7 linked regions of the Homo sapiens genome follow. The protein of the gene in region 1 interacts with the protein of each later gene in a pairwise test. Each region holds a gene or a part of one and is shown in the gene's direction. Other genes may lie near its edges. The genes, in order: LRCH4, HSD17B11, KASH5, NOTCH2NLA, RTN4, CA8 and CYB5R3.

Region 1 (3,500 bases):
CTCCAGCTCCCATCTCCAACCAGGTCTTCTTGCCCTTCCCTCCCAGCCCTTGGGAATCAGTAACTTTATGATTCTTTGGACCTGGCTTGCTGGTCCTTGGGGCTGGCGAAAAACTCGTCCGGTGTCGGGGACTTTATCTCTAGAACCAAGATAGAGTGACCTGTGGTTTTTCCCGTGTTGAAAACACACTGGAGTAGGGAAGAAGGGCCCCGAGGAGGGATGGGCACTCCCTGTGGTTTGCCCCAGGGGTTTCCCATCTTCCCTCCGGGAGCCCCCCAGCCCCTCGCCTTACTGTTTTCCCATGAGCACTGACCCCTCCTCTCACCTTCGGTCCTCCGCCTCACCTGGCATCTCTGAACAGGAACCACAGGAGTTAGAGATTCCAGCTGCTCTCCAGGATAGCCCTCCATTGACATTCCCCAACCCCCAAGTCTGAGGCTTCTCTAGCCCAGTGACGCTAAGGCCTTTGCCTTCCCTGTGCCATTCTGGTCACGCCTGGAATGTGCTCCCGTTGGCAGAAGGCTTTGTTATCTCTCCTGGGAGGCCACATTGATGGCCTTGAATCTTTAGGTGTGGAGGTGAGGGAGTGGGCAGCCGGCTCTGGGGGGACTGAAGGTCCTGTCCGGGCTGGGCCTTTCCGCAACTCTCCCCGACACCTCCTTTTCCCCAGACCTGTCCCGGAACCGGTTTCCCGAGGTGCCCGAGGCGGCGTGCCAGCTGGTGTCCCTGGAGGGCCTGAGCCTCTACCACAATTGCCTGAGATGCCTGAACCCAGCCTTGGGGAATCTCACAGCCCTCACCTACCTCAACCTCAGGTAGGGAGGCCGAGCCAGGGCCACGTGGGAGCGTGTGCTTCTCAGTCTCAAGTACTACTGAGTGACCCACCCAGTGACCCCGAGAGGATGGCAGTGCTGGGATGCCATGCCTGGGGAGCCAGTCCGCTGCCTTTCTCCCTTCCACAGCCGAAACCAGCTGTCGCTGCTGCCACCCTACATCTGCCAGCTGCCCCTGAGGGTCCTCATCGTCAGCAACAACAAGCTGGGAGCCCTGCCCCCTGACATCGGCACCCTGGGAAGCCTGCGACAGCTTGTGAGGATGGGGACGGGACCAGGAAAGGGACCCCTGAGCCAGGCAGCGGGACCTTCTAGGGGGAGGTTGGGGAGGGCCTGGAGCAAAGACAGAGATGGGAGGGTGGGTTCTGCTGGGCCTGGTCTCATGGCCCCTTCCCACTGCCTTCCTGATACCAGGACGTGAGCAGCAACGAGCTCCAATCCCTGCCCTCGGAACTGTGTGGCCTCTCTTCCCTGCGGGACCTCAATGTCCGGAGGAACCAGCTCAGTACGCTGCCCGAAGGTGAGAAGAATGAAGAACTGGAGAGGAGGTGTTTGTATGTGCGTCCCAGTTGGCTCAGGCTGCGGTAACGAAAACACTGCAGACCGGGTAGCTTATACATGGCAGGCATTCATTTTTCACAGTTCTGGAAGCTGAAGTTCAGGATCTGGGTGCTTCCATGGTCAGCTTCTGGCAGGGTGCTTTTCCTGGCTGCAGACTGCCGGCTCCTTGTGGTACTCTCCGATGGCGGAGAGCAGAGACAGCCCTCTGGGGCCTCTTTGATAAAGGAGCACAAATCTCACTGATGAGGGCTCCACCCTCATGATCTCAATTACTTCCCTAAGGCCTCGCTTCCTAATCCCATCACTTTGGGGGTTAGGATTTCAGCAGAGGACTTTTTGGGTGACACATTTCAGTCCATAACAGTGTATGTGCTTTGAAGAAGTTACAGGCCAGGAATCTTCAGAGGAGAATTACACCTTCATTGTCCAGGCTTTTGCAGTATATAAAACAAACTGTAAACGATCTGATTTGATCTTGACCTAGCAACCCTCTGATGCTGGCAGGGCGCAGATGAGCAGCTGTGTTAGAAACGTGGACACAGGCACAGAAGGGGAGCTGGTGGGTGCATCAGCTCTAGGTAGACTGGCAAGGTCAGAAGGGGCCTTCAAGGTCACCCAGCAGCCCTGCTCACCCCAGCAGGGGCTCTCAAACACCTGAGTCGGGATGCTCCGCCACTCCTCCCGGAGATGCCAGGGCCAGTGCCAGAGCCCAGGTGGCCCATCTAATGTGCTTGTTGTGATGCACTGATAGCCTCTGCCCCAAAGCAGGCATGCCTTTTGTTCAGCAGGCAGCAGCATGTGTGTGTGTCTGTGTGTGTTATGTCTTGTGTCTGCGTGCATGTGTGTGTCTGTGTGTATGTATGTGTTTGTGTATGTGTGTGTTGTGTCTGTGCATGTGTCTGTGTGTCTGTGCATGTGTGTCTATGTGCATGTGTATGTGTGTCTGTGTCTGTTCGTGTGTTGTGTTTATGTCTGTGTTATTTATGTCGTGTGTGTGCGTGTGTATGTTTGTGTGTCTGTGTTTGTGTGTGTGTTGTGTTTATGTCTGTGTTATGTCGTGTGTGTCTGTGCATGTGTATGTGTGTTTGTGTCTGTGTGTGTCTTTGTGTGTGTGTTTGTGTTTATGTCTGTTGTGTGTGTTTAGGTCTGTGTTGTGTGTGTTGTATGTGTTGTGTGTGTTTGGGTGTGTGTTGTGTGGGTTGTGTGTATGTGTTGTGTATGTTTATGTGTGTGTTGTGCATGTTGTTTGTGTCTGTGTGTATGTATGTTGTTTGCGTGTGTGTGGGTTTTGTGTGTGTGTGTGTGTGTGTGTGTGTGTGTGTGTGTGTGTGATGTGTGTATGATTCCTGTGTTGGGATCAGGTAGATGCGGGTGATGTGACTAAGATCTGGGGCCATCTCTTAGGGATTTAATGGCTTCTTGAGGAGAGACAGTCATAGGGAAGTTCCGTCAGGGGGTTCCCCAGACGGGGGCTAGAGGGAGGTGGCACTGGACTCTGCGTGGGGGTCCTGGGGAAGACTTCACCGGAGGCGCAGGCGCAGTGGGAGCCGAACATTGAAGGAGAATTCCCCAGCCTTCTGCATCCAGGCAGAGGACCCAGCATGTGCAAAGCATGGGGTTAGGAAGGTGAGCCAGGCATGGCAGGAAGGCCTGTGCCATGCTCAAGTGTGAACTTGGTTTTGAAGAACAAGGAGGGAGTGAGGTGGTCATCCACTTTCCCTGTCTCCCTACTCCCTGACCCTTTCTGCACCTGCCCTCTTCCTTCCCAGTCAAAAGGGGTAGGAAGGGCTCTCTCTGGGCCATAAAAAGAAATCCAAGCAAGATGTCCTGGGGACAGAGGCAAGAGCAATGAGTTCCATCCAATCTGGGATGTCTGGAACGATCCACCGAGGAGGTGGTGATGCTTGAGCTGAACCTTGAAAGATGCATGGATGGGGAAAATGGAGTTCTCCCAGCTGAGCAAACAGCACCTGGGAAGGCTCAGAAGCTGAGGGCCCGGAGGGGTGGGCAGTGAGGTGGGAAACGCGGGTGGAGCCAGGTTGTGGAAGCCTTCCTCATGCTGGGTTAGGGAGCTGTGGGTTTTATTCTGTGCTTAGGGCCGCCATG
Region 2 (3,500 bases), on another chromosome or scaffold:
CTAGATTGTTTTTTTTTTTTTTGGTGTGACTACTAGAAAGATTAAAATTATATACATGGCTTGCGTTATATTTCTATGAGACAGTACCGGTGTAGAGATTTAAAGGGCTGGAGCTACAGATGATAAAATTTCCTGTATTTTGGCTTTTTACTCTGGGGAGTCAATGAAGGGTTTTGAGGGTAATTCCTATTGAAGAGGATCCTCCAGCTGCTGGGCTTAGGAGAGATGTAAGAGGAGAAAAGATGGAAGGAACAAGTAAAGTAAGAGACTACTGTGATAATCCAGGCATGAGATGAAATGATGGGGACTATTGAACCGGGTTGGCAGTAGCAGAGATTCGGAGTAATGGTCAGAAAAATTGAGGACAATGTAGTGAGTTTTTATTAGGTTAAATTAGTTTAATTTAAATAATCTATATTTTATTTTGAGATTATATCCTTCCTACTTTTTGTGGGTAAAAAATATATTTGTTAATGAAATTACATGATAACATATGAGGGTCATTTTGTTAGTTTTGAGTGTCCTTATTTGGCCAAAAGTTTGGCAATCCTAGTTCGGTATACACATCCCACTCTATTTTTCTTGCCGTTTTATAGATTTGAAATTATAGAAGGCTGAGAACCACTAAACCTGATTGGGAAAGGACAGGGTGGGGATTTGGAGCAGTCCAGGTAGCAGAAACTGGAGATGTGAAGCTCTTGGGCTGGTGAATACCTGGAGAATGAGGAAGAAAGTGGAGTGGTGTTTGATTGTTATGAGATCTAGCTGGCAGGGCAGGGAGGGGCCAAACGGAGGGCCCTTTCACCTAGAGTACAAAGACAATCTCTTAGATTCATCCATGTAATGAGGACAGCAGTGTCCACATGTACCATATGTTAATTTAGGGAAGAATTAATGGTGGTGTCAGCTTTGTTGTTCCACTAAGCCTGATAATGGGAATTATTCATTCTGCTTTGTGATAATCTATCACTTCTTGACTATTCTCATTCCCATGCTTGGTTAGAATAGTTTGTAGCCAGGCATGGTGGCATGCTTCAGTAGCCCCAGCTACTCAGGAGGCTGAAGCAGCAAGATTGCTTGAGGCCGGGAGTTCTGGACTGTGGTGCGCTCTGCATGTCTGCATAAGTTCAGAATCAATATGGTACCTTCTGGCGGTGGGCATGAAGGAGACCAAGTTGTCTAAGGAGGGGTGAACCAGCCAGGTTGGAAACGGAACAGGTCAGAGCTCTGGTGCTGTTCAGTAGTGGGATCATGCCTGTGAATAGCCACTGCACTCAACCTGCGCAACAGGGAGACCCTTTTTCCTAAAATACTAGTTTGGAAAGAAAAATTTACAGTAAGTGGTGAGCATATAATATATGCTCAAAGACTATTTGTTGAATGAAAAACTGAATTAATGAATAACTGAAAGAATAATGGGCATAATTTAAAAAGTTTTTCAATTTTTAGTAATCAAGGTAATGGGTGTAAAGGTCTTAGTTGTACCAATAGACAAACATATTTGAAAAAAGTTACCAAGGGAAATCTTGAAGAGTTATGAGCAATTGTACTGTGCTGCAAAACATTTTAAAGGAAGAATTCATTTTTTTTTTGAAGATCTGCTTATTTTTTATTTCTTACCAACTATCTACAGGGCACTGTCCGGAATTTTTTCTGGAGGAATTTAGAACTTAAATTTGTTGCACCGGCCGGGTGCAGTGGCTCACCCCTGTAATCCCAGCACTTTGGGAGGCCGAGATGGGAGGATCACTTGAGGCCAGGGGTTCAAGGCCAGCCTGGGCAACATGGTGAAACCCCGTTTCTCCTAAAAATATAAAAATTAGACGGGTGTGGTGGCGCATGCCTGTAATCCCAGCTACTAGGGAGGCTGAGGCAGGAGAATCACTTGAACCGGGAAGGCAGAGGCTACAGTGAGCTAAGATTGCACCATTGCACTCCAGGCTGGGTGACAGAGCGAGACTCCATCTCAGAAAAAAAAAAAAAAGTTTCACAATTCAGAAGGTGTGGAAAGCAGACCAACCTAAATGAGGAAGACCAAGGAAACAGGGCAAAAGTGAGACAGCGGATGTGAAAGAAGGGTATCTTTGCATCCATATAGTGGAGTGGTGGTTAGTTGCTTGGTGGTTACAGAAAGCCAACCAGTAATAAGCAAATCTCTGAAAACAGAATAAATGGGACATAAATTTTTATTGTAAAATTTGTTCATGTAAGGAAATATATTTGTTCAAAAAAGAGAAGACCCAATCAATACAATATACTTTTTTTTTTTTTTTTGAGATAGAGTCTCGCACTGTTGCCCGGACTGGTGTGCGGTGGCAAAATCTTGGCTTGCTGCAACCTCTGCCTCCCGGATTCAAGTGATTCTCCTGCCTCAGCCTCCCAAGTAGCTAGGATTACAGGTGCCCACCACCACACCCAGCTAATTTTTTATATTTTTAGTAGAGGCAGGGTTTCACTATATTGGCCAGGCTATTCCCAGAATCCTGACCTTGTGATCTGCCCACCTCAGCCTCCCAAAGTGCTGGGATTACAGGTGTAAGCCACCGCACCTGGCCAATACAATATACTTTTAAAAAACTTTTTAAAATATGGTAAAATATATGACATAACACACCATTTTAACCATTTCTGAGTGTACAGTTTAGTGGCATTAAGTACATTTACCTTATTATGCAGTGATCTCTTCTATTTCTCTCCAGAAATTTTTCATCTTCCCAAGATGAAAATCTGTACCCATTAAAACAATATATCTCCCCAGCCCTCTCTCTCCCCAGGTCCTGGCAACAACCATTCTATTTTCTGTCTCTATGAATATGATACTCTGGGTACTGCATATAAGTACATTCATATGGTATTTGTTTTTTGTGTCTGGCTTATTTCATTTGGCATAATGAAGGTTGTACGTGTAGCATGTGTCAGAAATTCATTTCTTTTTAAGGCTGAATAATATTCTATCCTATGTGTATACAACATTAATATACTTGTAAAAGGAAATGCCAAAAGCTGCTGGTTAAGTATAGGAGAGCAAAATAAAGTTTACCTGAGATGTTGATGTCCCTTGAGGAATAAGAGTTCCTCATGAGAGTATACTACAGTTTGTGAGGGAGATTTCAGTAAAAGAAAAATATTGTGGGAACCTGCCCCCAATATTTCAATGTAGCTTCTTTCTATTTTCCATAAGTGTCAGCCGGCTGAGAAATAAAGAGAGACAGTATAAAGAGAAATTTTACAACTGGGCCGCTGGGGGTGACATCACGTATCATGATGCCCCTGAGCCTCAAAACCAGCAAGTTTTTATTAAGAGTTTCAAAAGGGGTGGGGGTGTAAGAACAGGGAGTAGGTACAAAGATCACATGCTTCAAAGGGCAAAAAGCAGAACTACTGATAAGGGTCTATGTTCAGTGGTGCACATATTGTCTTGATAAACATCTTAAACAACAGAAAACAGGGTTCGAGAGCAGAGAACCGGTCTGACCACAGATTTACCAGGGCAAAGTTTT
Region 3 (3,121 bases), on another chromosome or scaffold:
GAAGCCTGAGCCAGGCCAGGGCCCTAGGGATGGAGGAAAAGGGACAGACAGACATAATTGGGGTGGAGGGACAGAGCAGGGGTCAGACGGGATGTGGGTGATGGGGAGGGAGGAAAGGAGGCAAGACTTGGAACTTGTGACCTTGTGAGGTGAAATCTTGAGGGATGTCTGGGGGCTGCCTGGAAGAGTTGGGTGCACCATCCTGGAGCTCGAGGATTGCGTTTAGAAAACAATGGCAAGTTGGTTGCTGAGGTCAAGGGCAATGCCAATATGTCTCTGGAGAAACCGAGAGGTACTTGGGTCCTGAGGGAGAGCAGATAGATCCAGCCCAAGTCTGGGAACCTGGGATGAGAAGGCGGTTGGACAGGGAAATGCTGATCTCCTCTGGGACCCAGATAAGTGTACGAGATCTGTGGAACATCCAGGAAGTTTAGGCAACCGGGACTCCTGGGTCCTGTCAGGGAAGGGGGCTTGGTGGCATCGAGAACAACCCTTTGGTTTTTGGCTTCTGCCCTTAGGGGGCTAATAGGGCCATCCTCATGTAGGGCAGCACGAGAGGAGGGCAGGTTGTAGAAGGTGGTGAATTCATGTGTAGGTTGCAGCCTGGAAGACCTTTTGTATATGGGGTCTGGGACCGGCGGGGGAGACAGTGGGCACTGTTAGGGTTGGAGCTTTGAGTGAGAAGAATCAGAGAAGAACTAACCTTTTTGTTTCCACAGAGAAACTTCCAGGGAGAGCCAGCGCACCCTGAAGAAGGAAGGAAGGAGCCATCCATGTGGTAAGGAGCTGAGCCATCCGTCTGCCTCAGGGTGACACCTTATTCACAGCTGTTTACAGTAGGAGGACTGGATGTGCCCTGAGGGGATCGGCATTCATTCATTCACTCCTTCTTCATGTCTTCCGGGAGCAGAACCTGGGCCTGTAGGCCAGGAGATGAGGCCTGGCCCTGCCCTCAGGTCTAGGAGGAGATCTGGTTCCTGACCCTGCCTTGGGGGAGGGCTCCCAGCGAGGCTGCCATGCCTGAATGGGGTGAGGGGGGGCCTCTGGAATCAGCGTGGATTCAGATTCCAGCTCAGGTACTTTGCAGTCAGGCTGGTGTAAGCATTTGGTTGTATGCCGTGAAGTCCCAGCCCTGTGATTGGGATGTGATTGTTAGGAGGCTGTGTCCAGGCCTCTGAGGATGGAGAACGCACTAGATGACTGGGCCCACCCTCCTCCGGGGCCCTGGCCTTCGGGCCTCTGGTTTCCTGTGTTGCTTCCCTCTCCCCCTCCCCTCTTTCAGGCTCCCAGCTGCGGCTACTAATGAGGCTGCCTGCCAAGGCCTCTAATTGGACTTGTCTGGGAAGAGCTGAGATTGGGCGGGATGGGAGCTCTGGAGCTATGACCTCCCTCTGCGTCACCAGAGAAAGGAGGGGAGAAGGGGCTGAGCAGTAGTGGAAGTGGGGGAGGCAGGTGCCATGCGAGTTTCCAGAGGTCAGGGGCAGTTTGATCCGCAGGTTGGAAAGCTGGGAGTGAGGAAGGTGGTGAATACAACGGCTCCTAAATGTAGCCAGCTGTGAGGGCTTGGACCTTGAGAGGGGTTGGGTCCCAAGTAGAAGTTTCAGGGGATCAGATAGTGTATGTCTGACTGGGGCCTAAGAGCCTGGATCCTTTATCGCGTGGGAGCACAGCTGTATTCCTGAGGGTATCTCTGAGGGTTTTGGGTCTGAAGCTGGTGGTGGTGGCAACTGCAGGGCTGGATCTCTGGTCCCCAGTGAAGGCAGTGGCTGGTGGTATGGATGGCTGGGTCTCTAAGGGGCATTCAGGCTGGGCAGCTTGAGGCCTGAGTCCCCAAAGCAGCATTTCAGGGACTCAGATGGCTGTGACCCTAGGAGGGGCCTCCCTAGGAGCCTCCCGCCGAGGCAGGGTCAGGAGCCAGATCTCCTCCTAGACCGAGACTCGCTGAGGGAAGGGTCAGGTCTCATCTCCTGGCCTACAGGCCCAGGGTCTACTCCCGGAAGATGGGAATGAATGAGGGGCATGCTAACCCCTCAGGGCTCTTCCAGTCCTCCTGGAAGAGGGTCTTGCACCTAAGAGGATTCGGCATGGGGAAGAGCTCCAACAGTTGAGTTCTGTGGGCTGGGAGGTCTGAGTTGGAGTCCCAGTCCTCAGAGAGCACCCAGTGACAGTCATTGAAAAATGGCTCAACCCACTAGACAGGAAGGGGGTTTCGACACGTGCTCTGGGGTCTTACAGAGGCCTGAATCTCTGGTATTTTGGAGGGTGAGAGAGCCAGAAGCCTCAGTTCCCAGCTGGGGGATCTGCTGGGGAAGTAGTGGCTGAGAAAACCAATCTGAGATGAAGAGGCCCCCTTATTCTTTTAGTGGTTCACAGACCCTTTGGGTAATTTGGTGAAAATTCCTGTGAAAAATACATATGCAGGACACCCCCCAGGCCCGTCCGTGCTGCCTGGCCTCCCCCAGGCCCGTCCGTGCTGCCTGGCCTCCCCCAGGCCCGTCCGTGCTGCCTGGCCTCCCCCAGGCCCGTCCGTGCTGCCTGGCCTCCCCCAGGCCCGTCCGTGCTGCCTGGCCTCCCCCAGGCCCGTCCGTGCTGCCTGGCCTGTGCTAAGACCCCCTGCTCCAAGGCTTCTCTCCCAGCCCATAGTAGGCAAAGGGAACCAGGGAGAAGAGGACGAAGCCAGCAGTGACTTTGTTGGCCCTCAGGTTGACCAGAAGAGAGGAAGAGGAGGATGCAGAGAGCCAGGTCACGGTAGGCAGTCCCCAGCACCCCTCCCCAGTCCCCATCCACTCCACACCCACAGAGGCTGAGTCGTTTCAACTCTTCCCAAGCCCCAGCCTCACACTCCAACTCCTCAGGAGCAGAGAGAAAAATCATTTGGCCAAGAGATAACAAGGCCTTTGCTGTAGCTAATGAGAGCGATGGTGAGGTGGGGGGAGGCCTGGAGGCTAGTGGGCGGCCAGGCTGCTCCCAGGGGACCCTCCCAGCCACACACACAGGGCTGCAGCCACCACACCGCAGGCCTCATAGACGTGGCTACACCCCCGGATTGCATAAATGCACACGCACATGCGCCCACACTCGGGAGAGGTTGGGCCGGCCCTCCCCAGCCAGCCTCAGAACT
Region 4 (3,500 bases), on another chromosome or scaffold:
AATCCTATGAAGTAGGCACTGTTATTACATCTCTTTTACGACAGGGAAGTTTAGTACCTTGCCCAAGACTACACATTGAGTAAATGGTGGAGTTGGGATTGAAATCCAGGTGGTCTGGTTCCAGAGTCTGTACTCTTAAGAGCAGAACAATAATAACTCCAAGCATTTATTAAATTCTCAAGATTTATCCGGCACCATGCTACATGCTTGTATTCAAGCAGAGGCTGGTGATCATCTTTTAGAAATATTTTAGAAATGATTACTTAATTGGATAGAAATTAAATTTCTTGAATCTGAAGGTTCTGTTATTCCAAGGATGGCTGGAAATGGGGGAAAAGCCAGCAACAAGATGATGTCTGGCCTGAGGCTTTTAAGATGATCAGAATTTGTATCAAAAAGGAAACTGTGAACACGAATGATAAGTATTATAGGAATTCAGTTAACAAGTCTTGTCAGAATGTGGTAATAAATTATATACAACTTAAAGAGATGAAGTTACTTTAAATTGTGTGTGGAAGCCTTAGAAAAATTGAATAATTAAAGTTTCTTGGGAAGATGATCTCCTTTTACAAATGTTTAGTTTCAAATAGTGGCAGCACATATTAGGATAGAGAGATGACTTCTAGAAAACTGAACATATGGGACTGGAACAGTGTATTTTGGAGTCAGTTACAGGAAGGAAGTTGTTTAAAACCAAGTGAACAACAACAGTAACAAATGCATTTGAGAGAAAGAGCAGTGCAGTCCAGACTTAAACATTAGGGTGGCCATAATAGATGGGGAAGAAGGAGAAATCAGCAATCCAGACTAAGACTTCACTGGGTTTTGAGTTAGACAGAGGGAGGCATAGAAGCCAAGGTAAAATGATTAAAACGGTACATGGAGTGGTTAGCAATTCTCCCTATAGGAGAGAGAATTTCCTTATGAAGTTTCAGATGAGACCACTGAACTTGACTAGAGGAAAGTCATTGTTTTTAGAAAACAGTTTCTAAACAATAATTAGAATTAAAGTTTTGTTGCAGAGGGATAAGTAAGAAGTAGATGGAAAAGAAAGAGGAATATCTGAAATTAGGCTACAGTCATAGAAGGTTAGCTGTGAAACAATAATTTGGAAAGGGAAATGGGACCTCATGAAAGTGTGGGTTAAAAGAGACTTGTATATCTTCTAAGGTAAAAGTAAAGAACTAAGCTGATGTCCAGCCCTCTAAAACATTTTAAATAGAAATCAAACTTTATTAATACAGTAGGTCTAGTTTCACGTAAAGCAAATATATGGTTCTGTACACGGGCTTTAGGAGAGTAAGTCTGTTGTACCTCATATGTAAGTATTATCCCATTTAGAGGAAAACCCTAAGTCTTTCTTTACAGTGGCTTAAAGGCCCCAATTGATCCACATCCCAGTTACAGCTCTCATCTATTTTCTGCTGCTCCAGATATTCTTGCTGTTTCTCAAACACGCTAGGGCTGCTCTCTGTGTTATGGCCTTTGCATTTGCTGTTCCCTTTCTCATGAATGTGTTTTCCTAAGATACCTGCATGATTACTCTCACCTTATTTAGGTCTCAACTCAAGTATTGTCAGTGAAGGTCTTCTCTGATTTTCCTATTCTAAACTGAGATACTTCTCTTTGCTCACCCCACACCCTCATCCCCAGCTCCATTCCTTCCTGTTTAATTTTTTTTCACAGCACTTAACTCCATCTATTGTGCATCTTTTACTTAGTAATTTTGTTTTCGTCTTCCGCTATTAGAATGTAAACTCCAAGAGTGTAAGAATTTTTCTAGCACTGGAAAAATGCCTGGCACATAATAGGCATTTACTAATTGTTGTGTGAATGAACGATTATAAGTTTAATATTCTTTGTGGAAACTAATAAGGTTGATTTCCTATCAGAAACCGATCATTATTAATAAGCATATTGGATGGTATTTATAGAATTAGCCTTCATATGTTCTCTACTCAGAAGTTGGCAAACTTTTTCTGTAAAGTGCCAGAGAGTAATTATTTTTGCAGGCTTTGTGGTCTCATTACAGCTACTTGACTCTGTTGTTGTAGTGGAAAATCAGCCATAGACAATCTATAAATGAATGAGCATGGCTGTGTTCCAGTAAGACTATTTATGGACACTGAAATTTGAATTGTATATAATTTTGAAATGTCAGAAAATATCCTTCTTTTGTTCTTTTTTTCTAATCATTTAAAAATGTAAAAAACTATTCACAGGCCAAACAAAAACAGGCAGTGGTCCAAATTAGACTTGCAAACTGTACTTTGTCAATCTCTGGTTTTACTGATTTCTTAAATATATCTTAGGTTAAAACTTATTTTTCCATACTTGATAGGGAGCAACAATGTGAATTAAACTGTAGAAACAAATAATTCAGAAATACATCTGTTTAGCTTTAGAAACTTCCATTTTGCTTCATTTTTGTTTTCCTGGGAACCTTATATTTCCATTATATGTTTATGATGCTACCATTTAAATGACTTTGCATTCTCTTAGCATATGCCACATGATAGTGTTAGGGTGGTGTAATAGTTCAGGAGCAAAGCTGAGCAAAGCCCACCCACGTTTAAAAATTTGCCATTATTTAGAAGGTGCATAATTCCCATATGGGAGAATGAAGAGTCATCTAATAATGCCCAGAGGGCTGCACTGTGAGTGAGAATTGTGTTGCAGTTTTTAACATTCATAACACATTTCTTGAATAAGCTGCAAATGCTTTTAATAATATATCTCAGAGTTAATTTTAGCTATGCTACATTGGCACTTTTTGCTCCTCCACTTCAAAAAACCAACACAAGAAACTATTCTCAAATCAAGCTGTGATTTGGATGGGGCATTGTATTTTCCTCAATAAGCACAAAGAAGAGAGAAAAGATGTTTTCACTTGGCAAAACTTTTTTTTTTGAGATGGAATCTCACTCTGTTGCCCAGGCTGGAGTGTAGTGGCACAATCTCGTCGGCTCACTGCAACCTCCGCCTCCCGGGTTCAAGCAATTCTCATGCCTCAGCCTCCCGAGTAGCTGGGATTACAAGCGTGCACCACCACCCTGGCTAATTTTTGTATTTTTAGTAGAGCCAGGGTTTCACCTTGTTGGCCGGGCTATTCTCAAACTCCTGACCTCAGATGGTCCTCACACCTCAGCCTCCCAAAGTGCTGGAATTACAGGTGTGAGCCACTGTGCCCAGCCCACTTGCAAAACTTTTTAACATTTATAAGGTTTTTTACATACTTGATTTTGTTCAGTTCTTAGAATAATCTCATGATGTAGGTGACCTTATTAACTATTTACAATGTGAGAAAATGGATAGTCAATGAAGATAAGTAACTTGTCCAAGGTCACAGCACCAGAACTCCAAACCAGACCTTCTGACCTTCTTGATACAGACTCCTCACAGTCACCTGCATGCCATCTTTGGTTTCAGTGCTATGAACTTTCTTCACTGCCTGTTGGTCTGTAGCTACACCTACTCATGAAGATGCCCAGAGCCTTAGC
Region 5 (3,500 bases), on another chromosome or scaffold:
ATGCATGTGCGGGAGAGCAGGGTGTGTGTGTGTGTGTGTGTGTGTGTGTGTGTGTTGGATGTTGAATTTAGAATTTCAGAGGAATAGCAGTTCAGGTTGATTATAATGGCCAGTGTTAGGCCATCAGGCAAAGGCCTACTGTGTAGTCAGATTAAGATTGCTAGAGGTGAGGTCAAGTAAACTATGAGGCCATGATACTGTATTGCACTTCTACCTAACATTGAAGTCACCCAGGGTGATGGCAGGACTAGGGGTGGAGAGGAATACTGGGGTTAGAGTCCTTGGTAAAGGGCAGTGAGGTAACTGGCAGGATGGTAGGTAGAAGAAATGAGGAAGGACAGAGAATGACGTAGCGGAATAGCCAAGACTTTTGCCCAAGGTCTCTGAAATAAAAGTCTGGAAGCAGCATTGGTGAGCAGAGGGTACTGACCTCCCCACTCCTCCCTTAGGTGTGTAGAATATGAGAGAACGATTTAGCCTTCATTTAGCAAGTTCCACAGGGAAACCAGTATCTTCAAGGAACAGCCAGGTTTTAGTGAAGGCGAGGTAAAGGCAGGAATGTTCAGTAAAGATGTTGAGGAGTAGAGGAGCTGGTTCACAGTGGAATGGGGGTTTCAAACAGCACAGTAAAATGGTTTAGGAGGGAACAGTAGAAAGAAGGGTCTCAGAAGCCCAGAGCAGCTTGGTGATGACTGGGTGAAGAGCAAGGAGTAATCGGTGTAGCAACACCTTTGAAGTCTCCCCTCCCCGCTAGTGCTTCCTCCCAAAACTTAAAGCTAGCAGTCCTCTAGTAGATGGTGGCCCTTAGGAATTTCAGTATTTCAGGAGTCACCTATTTCTTGGATTGTTTTTGTTAAACCTGGGAAATCTATAGCCTAATAGTTTAGAAGTAAGGGAAGAAAAGGGGGCATTGCCTTTGAAAGCTTAATGGGAATGGTGGAAGAAAGTGTAAGCAATGCTTGGGCATTCTCTTTTAGAATATGTTTATCTCCCTTCTCTGAGAAAATTGTTATTTCCTGCCTTTTTGACTTAACCTTTTTTGATATTAGTTATCATAGCAACTTACTAGGGAATAGAGAATTATTTAGATACACCCAATATATATATTCTACAAAAGTTGTGGGAAGGAAACCCAGTATTGCTATAATGAAAACAATATAGGTGACCTGAGGTTTTAGTCTTGGCTATACCACTGACAATCACTTTGTTTCTCTAGATGTCATTTTCCTTTTCTATAAAAGGAAGGGTGGATTAGCTCAAGTCCTTGCAACTTAATAATTTTCTTGACTTGATTATATAACAGGCATCTGTTAAAAGCAGGTAAGTAGTGGCCAGTCACAATGGCTTACGCCTGTAATCCCAGCTTTCAGGGAGGGAGAGGTGGGAGGATAGCTTGAGCCCAGGAGTTCGAGACCTGCCTGGGCAATATAGTGAGACTCCGTTCTCCACAAAAAAGGGAGAAAAAAAAGACAAAAAAAAAAAAAAGTGTAAAAGCAGGTAAGAGTTGCTTTAACATGCTTCTATCAGGCACTATATGAGATTTTTTTTTGGCGGGGGGGGCAGGGAAAAAGATGAAACTAAGACAAAGTTTTGCGCTTTATGCAACTTACAGCCAGCTGGTACAGACACACTGTTGAGGACATAGTTAAACATTGTGATCTATGTTATAGTGAGGATAGGTACTTACCTGTGTATCTTCGTGAAAGGGAGGTTCAAGTGTACTGAAGTCAAATGTACCAAAATACAGCAGTGGTCTGATAAAACATAAGGGAAGCTCTCTTCTCAGATGACTTAAAAGTTTTATGCCATCTCTAATTATGAAATATTTAAGTGTGTTTTTAAAAAAATTCTGGGTCTTATTAATGTATATGCATTTAAACATTTAAACTATTAAATAATAAAATACTAATTTCCTCAGATCATTTATTATCTCATATGTTCTTCTTTTCTTTTTTCGAGACAGGTTCTTGCTGTGTCGCCCAGGCTGAAGTGCAGTGGTGAGATTATGGCTCACTGCAGCCTCAACCTCCCAGGGTCAGGTGGTCCTCAGCCTCCCAAGTAGCTGGGACCAAAGGCTCGTGTCACTATGCCTGGCTAATTATTTTTGTAGAGAGGAGGTCTTGCCTTGTTGCCTAGGCTGGTCTCAAACTCCTGTGTTCAAGGATCCTCCCGCCTCTGCCTCCCAAAGTGCTGGGATTACAGGTGTGAGCCTCCAGGACTTTCCTGTTCTTGTTTTCTTAAAATGACATTTTGTAGGCAGAAATCAGTTTTAGTTTTGGGAAGAAAGATTGATTTTGCAAGAGAGATGAATAAGGTATTGTGATGCAGATGGTGCTTTATTAATTTTGGGAAGTAAAGTTTGTCAAGAAACTAATGAATTCTGGTCTTCCTCCCCCTCCATTTACAAAGAAATTTGTGACAAACTATATTCTTACTATTGGAATGTAAATACTGATTTTTTTTCTCAGTAGTAGTATCAATGAATGTTCTTGGCATTTCCCCAATGAATGTTCTTGGCATTTTTTTTTTTCCAAAAATTGATTGGCTATAGATATGTTAATTAATTTCTGGGTTATCTGTTCTGTTCCATTGGTCTGTGTTTCTGTTTTTATGCCAGTACCATGCTGTTTTGGTTACTATAGCTGTGTAGTATATTTTGAAATTTAGTAGTGTGATTCCGCCAGCTTTATTTTTGTTCAGGATTGCTTTTGCTTTTTGGAGTCTTGTGGTTCCATACAGATTTTAGGATTTTTTTTCCTATTCCTGTGAAGAAGGTCATTGGTATTTTATTAGGGATTGCATTGAATCTGTAGACTGCTTTGGATATTACGGCCATTTTTTAACAATGTTAACTCTTATGATTCATGAACATGGAATGTCTTTCTTTGCATTTGTTTGTATCCTCTTCAATTTCTTTCATCATTGTTTTGTAGATTTCCTCGTAGAAGTCTTTCACCTCCTTGGTTAAACTTATTCTGAGGTATTTTTTTTTAAGCTATTGCAAATGGAGTTTCCTACTTGATTTCTTTTTCAGCTAGTTTGTTGTTTGTGTAAAGACATGCGATATTTTTGTTATTGATTTTATATCCTGCAACTTTACAGAATTTACAAGTTTTTGGTAGTCTTTAGGTTTTTCTTTATATAAGATCATGTCATCTGCAAACAGGGACAATGTGACTTCCTCTTTTCTAATTTGGATATCCTTTATTTCTCTCTTGCTCAATTGCTCTGGGTAGGACTTCCCATTTCAGTCTTTATTTATTTGTTATGACATTAGCAGTTTTAAAGAACACAGGGCCTCTCTTCCCCCGACTTTATAATAGAACATTCCTCCTAGTGGATTTGTCCGATGTTTCCTAGTGATTAATTTGAGGCTATGGGTTCATTTATGATACTGTATAGATGATGATGTGTCCCTCTCATAGCACCACTTCTAGAGTTATCTGCTATTCATCAGTCCCTCACTGGTTATGTTAATTTTGACCGTCTGGGCAAGATGA
Region 6 (3,500 bases), on another chromosome or scaffold:
CAAAAATACATTTCATGTCAGGTGCCATGATCAATATTGGTTGCATATAAATTTATAAGACAGTTCTTGAGGATTCATAGCCTAGTGAAAAGCCAGTTCTTTAAAGTACTAGTGTACACTTGATGTGGCAAGTGTTACAAAGGGTTGTGGGAGCAGAGAGCAATGACTAAGCACATATACTCCACTGCATCTGTGTGTGCCTAGTCCTGCTCTGAGATAAAATTTACTTCATCAATTTGAACTTACCATTTTCTTCTGCTACCTTCTCAAACACAATTTTCTTTAATCTTCTGCCTCACTCTAAAACAGAGACTATGGACCAACATCTGGGCCCTCTCACCATGAAGTGTGTTTCTTCCTCACCTAGCATTTTGTGCTTTTCTCTTCCTCCTTCTTCCACCCCTGCCCACTGAAGAAGAAGTGTCTGCACTTCTGTCTAGGCCTGATTTGGATACTCATGATCCAGAACCCTTTTTTCCTGCCTCCCTGGAGACCTTCCTCCTTCAGATTCCCCTTATCCTCTCTGTCATGGTAATAATTTCCTCCTTATTGTTCTTTCCCTTCCAATATTTCTGCAAACTCAAGAAAAGTAACCAAAATAACCATGTCTTGAGTAGTTGTTTTTTCCCCTAGGATATTTAAGCTCCTCAGAGGAACCATTTGTAAGCTCTATATACCCTGTCATTCGCTTATTTAAATAATGTTTTATCTTTATCAAAATAGAATATATACAAAATAGTTGAATAGGCTGGGTGTGATGGCTCACAAGTGTAATCCCAGCACTTTGGGAGGCTGAGGTGGGTGGATCAGTGGAGGTCAGGAGTTCGACACCAGCCTGACCAACATGGTGAAACCCCATCTCTACTAAAAAATCCAAAAATTAGCTGGGCATGGTGGCACACGCCTGTAATCCCAGCTACTTGGGGCGTTGAGGCAGGAGAATCACTTGAACCTGGGAGGCGGAGGTTGCAGTGAGCCGAGATTGCGCCATTGCTCTCCAGCCTGGGCGACAAAAGCAAAACTCCGTCTCAAAAAAAAAAAGGTGAATAATACTCTTTCTGCCTGTGGTTCTTTCTGCCTGTGGTTATCCCCTGCTCTTCCCCACCTACGGCTGCTGTTCCCTAGTAACAACTACTTTGAAACTTTCTAGCTGTTTCTCCTGTGGTTACCTCCAAGAATGTAAGAATATAATAATGCTGTTATGCTTTGGTAGTAAGCTATGTATGAACTCTCTACTATTGAAGACGAGGCCAATTTTCTTTCCTTTTTTTTTTTTTCTTTTGAGACAGAGTCTCGCTCTGTCGCCTAGGCTGGAGTGCAATGGTGCGTCTTGACTCACTGCAATCTCCACCTCCCAGGTTCAAGTGATTCTCTTGCCTCAGCCTCCCCAAGTAGCTGGGATTACAGGCGCCCGCCACCACACCAAGCTAATTTTTGTATTTTTAGTAGAGACGAGGTTTCACCATGTTGGTCAGGCTGGTCTCAAACTCCTGACCTCAGGTGATCCGCCCACCTCGGCCTCCCAAAGTGCTGGGATTACAGGTATGAGCCACAGCACCTGGACGAGGCCAGTTTTCTTATTGCCCTCTTTCTTATGATTTCACTCTCGTATTATCGCTGTATACTTAAATTAATTTTAAAAATCTGTATACATTTAGGGGGTACAAGTGCGGTTTTGTTTCTTGGATATATTGCATAGTGGTGGAGTCCGGGCTTTTAGTGTAACTGTCACCCAAATAGTGTACATTGTATCCATTATGTAATTTCTCATGCCTCATTCCCCTGGAGTCTACTTAAATTAATTTTTATTTAAATTAATACTCATTATTTTTATTATTACAACTGCAACTGTTGTTTCCAGCTGAGATTATATTTTGTCTCACTTAAACAGTGTTTTGTATTTTCCTGGAGTTAATGCATTTTTGTTAATTGAATTTTTTATCTGTCGGTAATTAATTTGCAAACTCTCTAACATATGACGGATCTTCTCTTAGGACATTAGCGTGCATCAGGTTGTCTTCCCTCCCTCGCTCCTCCTTGTCCTTTCTTTTTCCTGTGGAGGCTGCTTTTCTTTTCTGCTCTCCAGGCCTCTCCTAACAGCCTCTTCTCGCAGCTCCTTGGACCTCAAGCCTGGGAAGTCCCCTTGTTTGTCTCCTGTGTTAGATCGGATGTTTCCTGGATGCCGTGGAAGTCCCCTCGTTTGTCTCCTGTGTTAGATCGAATGTTTTCTGGATGCCGTGCCATCCTCTTTTTTGAGTTGCTCCGTCATCTCAGGGAATTTCTTGGTTTATTTGCTTGTACAGTTCATCTTCCAGGAACTTCCTGAGAAAAGGGGCAAGTGAGGGCTACATGCTTGGATGCCTATGTGTCTGTAAGTGTCTTTATTATACTTCACACTTGATTGGAGTTAGCCTGGAGCGGCAGTCTGGGTTGGAAGTATTCTTGACTTCGTTTGATGTTTGACATCATGATTACATTGCTTGAAGCTTCCAGCGTTGCAGTTGAAAGATCTAGCGCCGTTCTGCTTCTCAACCCCCTCTATGTGTCTCTTCTCTTTTTTCCTTTCTGGAACCTTTTACAGTGTTTTCTTTACTACTGTTGTTTTGAAATGTTACAACCATATGCCTTGGTGGGATTGTTTCTGCACTATATGCTGGGCACTTGGTAGGTTTTTCCAGTCAAGATAATTGTGTCTTTTATTTACCAGCAATTTTCTTATATTTCTTATATTATTTCATTGATAAATTTTGTATTTTTATTTTTTCCTCCTCTTTTGGTAACTCCCACTTTCTTCTTCCCTTTCTCTTCTACTTTCTAGTAGATTTCCTCAATTTTTAATCGTTTAGTCTTTTGATTGAACTCTTACTTTCTGCTTTCTTGTTTTTAATTTCTAAAACATTGAACTTACGCTGCAATTAAAAACCTTTTTTTTTAAAAAAAATACAACATCCAGTATTTATTTCATGAATGTATGATCTTTCTTCATTCTTTTCTATATTGCTTCTTTTCTATCCCTACCTGTCTCTGTTTACTCTGGGTTTCTTTTTCTATTTATATTGGCATCCCTCTTTTATTTCGGAGGTTCTCCTCAAAAGTCCAGTGATCTTTGGCTCTTCGTTCCTATTTAAGAATGAGTCTAGGAAGCAGATCAGAAGCTCTGTGCACCTGGGCAGGGATTGAGGGCTGTTGGGCTTCACAGTACCATGATCAAGAAAGGACCTGGCCATGTTGTTGGAGGAGTCTTTGTTGCTTATATTGGTTTATCTGGAATATGCTTGTTTCCTGTTTGTGTTTTTGTTTTGGGGTTGGGGATGGCTCAAGTTGGCCACCAGCTTTCTGGTTGTTGGCACAGACAGGAGACTATTACCATTTAGCAAGTCCACATTTCCTTCATCTTCTGCCAGGGATCTCATCATCATGCCTGACCATGCATGATGAGGTTTAACTGCTCCTTTTAAAAACTTTAAATCTGTTTTTCTGTTTTCAGTTTCCTACTTTGC
Region 7 (3,500 bases), on another chromosome or scaffold:
ATCCTCTCCCTCTTTTGCCTTGCCCCCAGTAAAGGCTGCTTCCATCGGTCACTTGCCCTCTTCAGAGCCCCTCCCTTGCTCTATTTCTGGCCACCCCCAGCAGGCACAGGAGGGGTGTGGCAGGGAAAACTGAGTCACAGCAGAGAACATCATCTGCCAGGGCCCAAGTCTCCACCCTGGGCTTGTGCCTGGTGCCTCTGACTCAGGCTTCACAGGAATCTCAGGCTTCCATGGCACGGAGCTGGCCGTTTCCTGTAACTGTTGGGGCAAGTGTCTGTAATTGTCCCAGGAGCTCACAGAGAAGTTGACAACCAGAGAGAAGCAAAAAAATACAAAATGAAAAGTAAATTATTGGCCAGGCACGGTGGCTCATGCCTGTAATCCCAGCACTTTGGGAGGCCGAGGCCGGTGGATCACCTGAGGTCAGGAGTTCAAGACCAGCCTGGCCGACATGGTGAAACCCCATCTCTACTAACAATACGAAAATTAGGCCAGGCGTGGTGGCTCACACCTGTAATCTCAGCACTTTGGGAGGCCGAGGAGGGCAGATCATGAGGTCAGGAGATCGAGACCATCCTGGCTAACACGGTGAAACTCTGTCTCTACTAAAAATACAAAAAATTGGCCGGGCGTGGCTGGGCTCACACCTGTAATCCCAGCACTTTGGGAGGCTGAGACAGGCGGATCACAAGGTCAGGAGATTGAGACCATCCCGGTAACACGGTGAAACCCTATCTCTACTAAAAATACAAAAAATTAGCCAGGCGTGGTGGCAGGCACCTGTAGTCCCAGCCGCTGGCGAGGCTGAGGCAGGAGAATGACGTGAACCTGGGAGGCGGAGCTTGCAGTGAGCCGAGATTGCGCCACTGCACTCCAGCCTGGGTGACAGCAAGACTCCGTCTCAAAAAAAAAAAAAAAAAATTAGCTGGGCGTGGTGGCAGGCACCTGTAGTCCCAGCTACTCCAGAGGCTGAAGCAGGAGAATGGCGTGAACCTGGGAGGTGGAGCTTGCAGTGAGCCGAGATCGTGTCACTGCACTCCAGCCTGGGCTACAGAGCAAGACGCTGTCTCAATCAATCAATCAATCAATCAATATGAAAATTAGCCGGGCGTGGTGGCAGATGCCTGTAATCCCAGCTACTCCAGAGGCTGAAGCAGGAGAATGGCGTGAACCTGGGAGGTGGAGCTTGCAGTGAGCCGAGATCGTGCCACTGCACTCCAGCCTGGGCTACAGAGCAAGACGCTGTCTCAATCAATCAATCAATCAATCAATATGAAAATTAGCCGGGCGTGGTGGCAGATGCCTGTAATCCCAGCTACTTGAGAGGCTGAGGCAGGAGAATCGCTTGAACCTGGGAGGCAGAGGTTGCAGTGAGCCAAGATCACACCATTGCACTCCAGCCTGGGTGACAAGAGCGAAACTCTGTTTCAAAAAAATAAAAAATAAAAAGCAAAAAAAAGTAAATCACCACCTCCCAGATGAGACCACACTTAACCTTGCGATATGATTTTTTGTTTGTTTGTTTGTTTTTGAGATGGAGTTTTGCTCTCGTTGCCCAGGCTATAGTGCAATGGTGTGATCTCGGCTCACTGCAACCTCTGCCTCCCAGGTTCAAGCGGTTCTCCTGCCTCAGCTTCCCAAGTAGCTAGGATTACAGGTGCCCACCACCACGCCCTGCTAATTTTTTTTTTTTTTGTATTTTTAGTAGAGTCAGGGTTTCAACATGTTGGCCAGGCTGGTCTCGAACTCCTGACCTCAGGTGATCCACCCGACTTGGCCTCTCAAAGTGCTCGAATTACAGGCGTGAGCCACCGTGCCTGGCCCTGTGATATGTTTTATACTTATGTAAGCAGGCACACATGTTTTTTTCTTACCCAAATGAAATAATAACATTTTGAAACCTGTTTTTTAACGGTATTTTCCCTTGTTATTGTTATTGGTGGGTTGTTTTGTTTTTGTTTGTGTTTTTTTAGAACAAGGTCTCGCTCTGTCACCCAGGCTGCTTTCTGCAACCTCAAACTCCTGGGCACAAGCCTTCTGAGTAGCTGGGACCATGTGCATGCACCACTATGCCTGGCTCTGTTACTGTCGTTCCTTTTTGTTGTTGTTGAGATGGACTTTCGCTCTTGTTGCCCAGGCTGGAGTGCAATGGCACAATCTCGACTCACCGCAACCTCCACTTCCCAGGTTCAAGTGATTCTTCTGCCTCAGCCTCCCAGGTAGCTGGGATTATAGGCATGCGACACCATGCCCAGCTAATTTTGTATTTTTAGTAGAGATGGGGTTTCTCCATGTTGGTCAGGCTGGTCTCGAACTTCGACCTCAGGTGATCCGCCCGCCTCGACCTCCCAAAGTGCTGGGATTACGGGCATGAGCCACCACGTCTGACCCTACTGTTTCTTAATTCCAGAAATAATGTATGATTTATATGTGCTCACAGCAAAAACTCTGTAAGGTATGACCTCCACCCCTGCCCCATTGCCGCATCCCAGGGCCCCGTGCAGAGGGCCCAGGTCACAGCTCAGCGTGAGCCTGCCAGACCCTATGTGGGTATCACGTTCATACACGGGTGTGTGGAGGTGCGGGTGTGTGCACACTCAGTTTCTTTTTTTGATAACCTGGTTTTGTAGCCAGCCATACAACATGGATCCTTTTAGTATTTCATCATAGGGATGTTACACAAGGGAGCATGTGGCAGATGTCCTAGGATTGCAGCTTTGCCCCCTCATTGTGCCCATGGTGGCTTTGCGGGGTCCGCAGCGGGCCTGCTCTGGGTGCTCTGTGCTTTGCCCCACCCTGCTGCCCTACTAGAGGTTGGCCAGCACCATAATTGTTCATCTCTTGTCCTCATTTCTATTCTTTTTTTTGAGACAGAGTTTCACTCTTGTTGCCCAGGCTGGAGTGCAATGGTGCGATCTCAGCTCACTGCAACCTTGCCTCCCAGGTTCAAGTGATTCTCCTGCCTCAGCCTCCTGAGTAGCTGGGATTACAGGCATGCGCCACCACGCCTGGCTAACATTGTAGTTTTAGTAGAGACGGGATTTCTCCATGTTGTTCAGACTGGTCTCGAACTTCCGACCTCAGATGATTCGCCCACCTCGGCCTCCCAAAGTGCTGGGATTACAGGCATGAGCCACCACGCCTGGCCATCTCATTTCTATTCTTCCTCCAAATATTTTCTGGTACATGGGTGTCTGACCTTGACCCTTAGGACCAGTTGATAGTCCTGGAATCCACTTCCAGAAGGCCTTGGGGCTCTGTTTGCCCCTAATGCAGAAGCTTCTGGTAGAGGCAGCTTTGAGGCCTGGGCTGCCTGGGAGAGGTTGGTGGGCCCCCTGCACACCTGATCCTGAGTGGCGTTTGCACCGTCTTTCCTGCGATTTGCCTCTGCTCACACGTGTAGGGACGGGTCTCTCCTTGAGGCAGCTGCTCTGTGCTGGAACACTGCTCAGGTCGGAGAGTTCTCGTACTGAGCCGAGATGGGCATCTGTGATGTCCTG

The links.
Region 2: the proteins of LRCH4 (region 1) and HSD17B11 interact in binary tests that used the Homo sapiens proteins (3 or more experiments, as listed by UniProt).
Region 3: the proteins of LRCH4 (region 1) and KASH5 interact in binary tests that used the Homo sapiens proteins (3 or more experiments, as listed by UniProt).
Region 4: the proteins of LRCH4 (region 1) and NOTCH2NLA interact in binary tests that used the Homo sapiens proteins (3 or more experiments, as listed by UniProt).
Region 5: the proteins of LRCH4 (region 1) and RTN4 interact in a two-hybrid assay, tested with the Homo sapiens proteins (one large-scale study listed by BioGRID and IntAct).
Region 6: the proteins of LRCH4 (region 1) and CA8 interact in a two-hybrid assay, tested with the Homo sapiens proteins (one large-scale study listed by BioGRID and IntAct).
Region 7: the proteins of LRCH4 (region 1) and CYB5R3 interact in binary tests that used the Homo sapiens proteins (3 or more experiments, as listed by UniProt).

The regions. Positions count from the first base shown.
Region 1 is NC_000007.14:100,579,630-100,583,129, reverse strand, and holds part of LRCH4 (leucine-rich repeat and calponin homology domain-containing protein 4), read left to right. Parts: intron 1-670; coding exon 671-815; intron 816-962; coding exon 963-1,089; intron 1,090-1,247; coding exon 1,248-1,353; intron 1,354-3,500. UniProt on the Homo sapiens protein: Accessory protein that regulates signaling by multiple TLRs, acting as a broad-spanning regulator of the innate immune response. In macrophages, binds LPS and promotes proper docking of LPS in lipid raft membrane. May be required for lipid raft maintenance.
Region 2 is NC_000004.12:87,384,689-87,388,188, reverse strand, and holds part of HSD17B11 (estradiol 17-beta-dehydrogenase 11 precursor), read left to right. Parts: intron 1-3,500. UniProt on the Homo sapiens protein: Can convert androstan-3-alpha,17-beta-diol (3-alpha-diol) to androsterone in vitro, suggesting that it may participate in androgen metabolism during steroidogenesis.
Region 3 is NC_000019.10:49,412,249-49,415,369, forward strand, and holds part of KASH5 (protein KASH5), read left to right. Parts: intron 1-703; exon of another isoform or gene 704-719; coding exon 720-778; exon of another isoform or gene 779-856; intron 857-2,702; coding exon 2,703-2,748; intron 2,749-3,121. UniProt on the Homo sapiens protein: As a component of the LINC (LInker of Nucleoskeleton and Cytoskeleton) complex, involved in the connection between the nuclear lamina and the cytoskeleton.
Region 4 is NC_000001.11:146,166,522-146,170,021, reverse strand, and holds part of NOTCH2NLA (notch homolog 2 N-terminal-like protein A), read left to right. Parts: intron 1-3,500.
Region 5 is NC_000002.12:55,019,452-55,022,951, reverse strand, and holds part of RTN4 (reticulon-4), read left to right. Parts: intron 1-3,500. UniProt on the Homo sapiens protein: Required to induce the formation and stabilization of endoplasmic reticulum (ER) tubules. They regulate membrane morphogenesis in the ER by promoting tubular ER production.
Region 6 is NC_000008.11:60,274,901-60,278,400, reverse strand, and holds part of CA8 (carbonic anhydrase-related protein), read left to right. Parts: intron 1-3,500. UniProt on the Homo sapiens protein: Does not have a carbonic anhydrase catalytic activity.
Region 7 is NC_000022.11:42,632,393-42,635,892, reverse strand, and holds part of CYB5R3 (NADH-cytochrome b5 reductase 3), read left to right. Parts: intron 1-3,500. UniProt on the Homo sapiens protein: Catalyzes the reduction of two molecules of cytochrome b5 using NADH as the electron donor.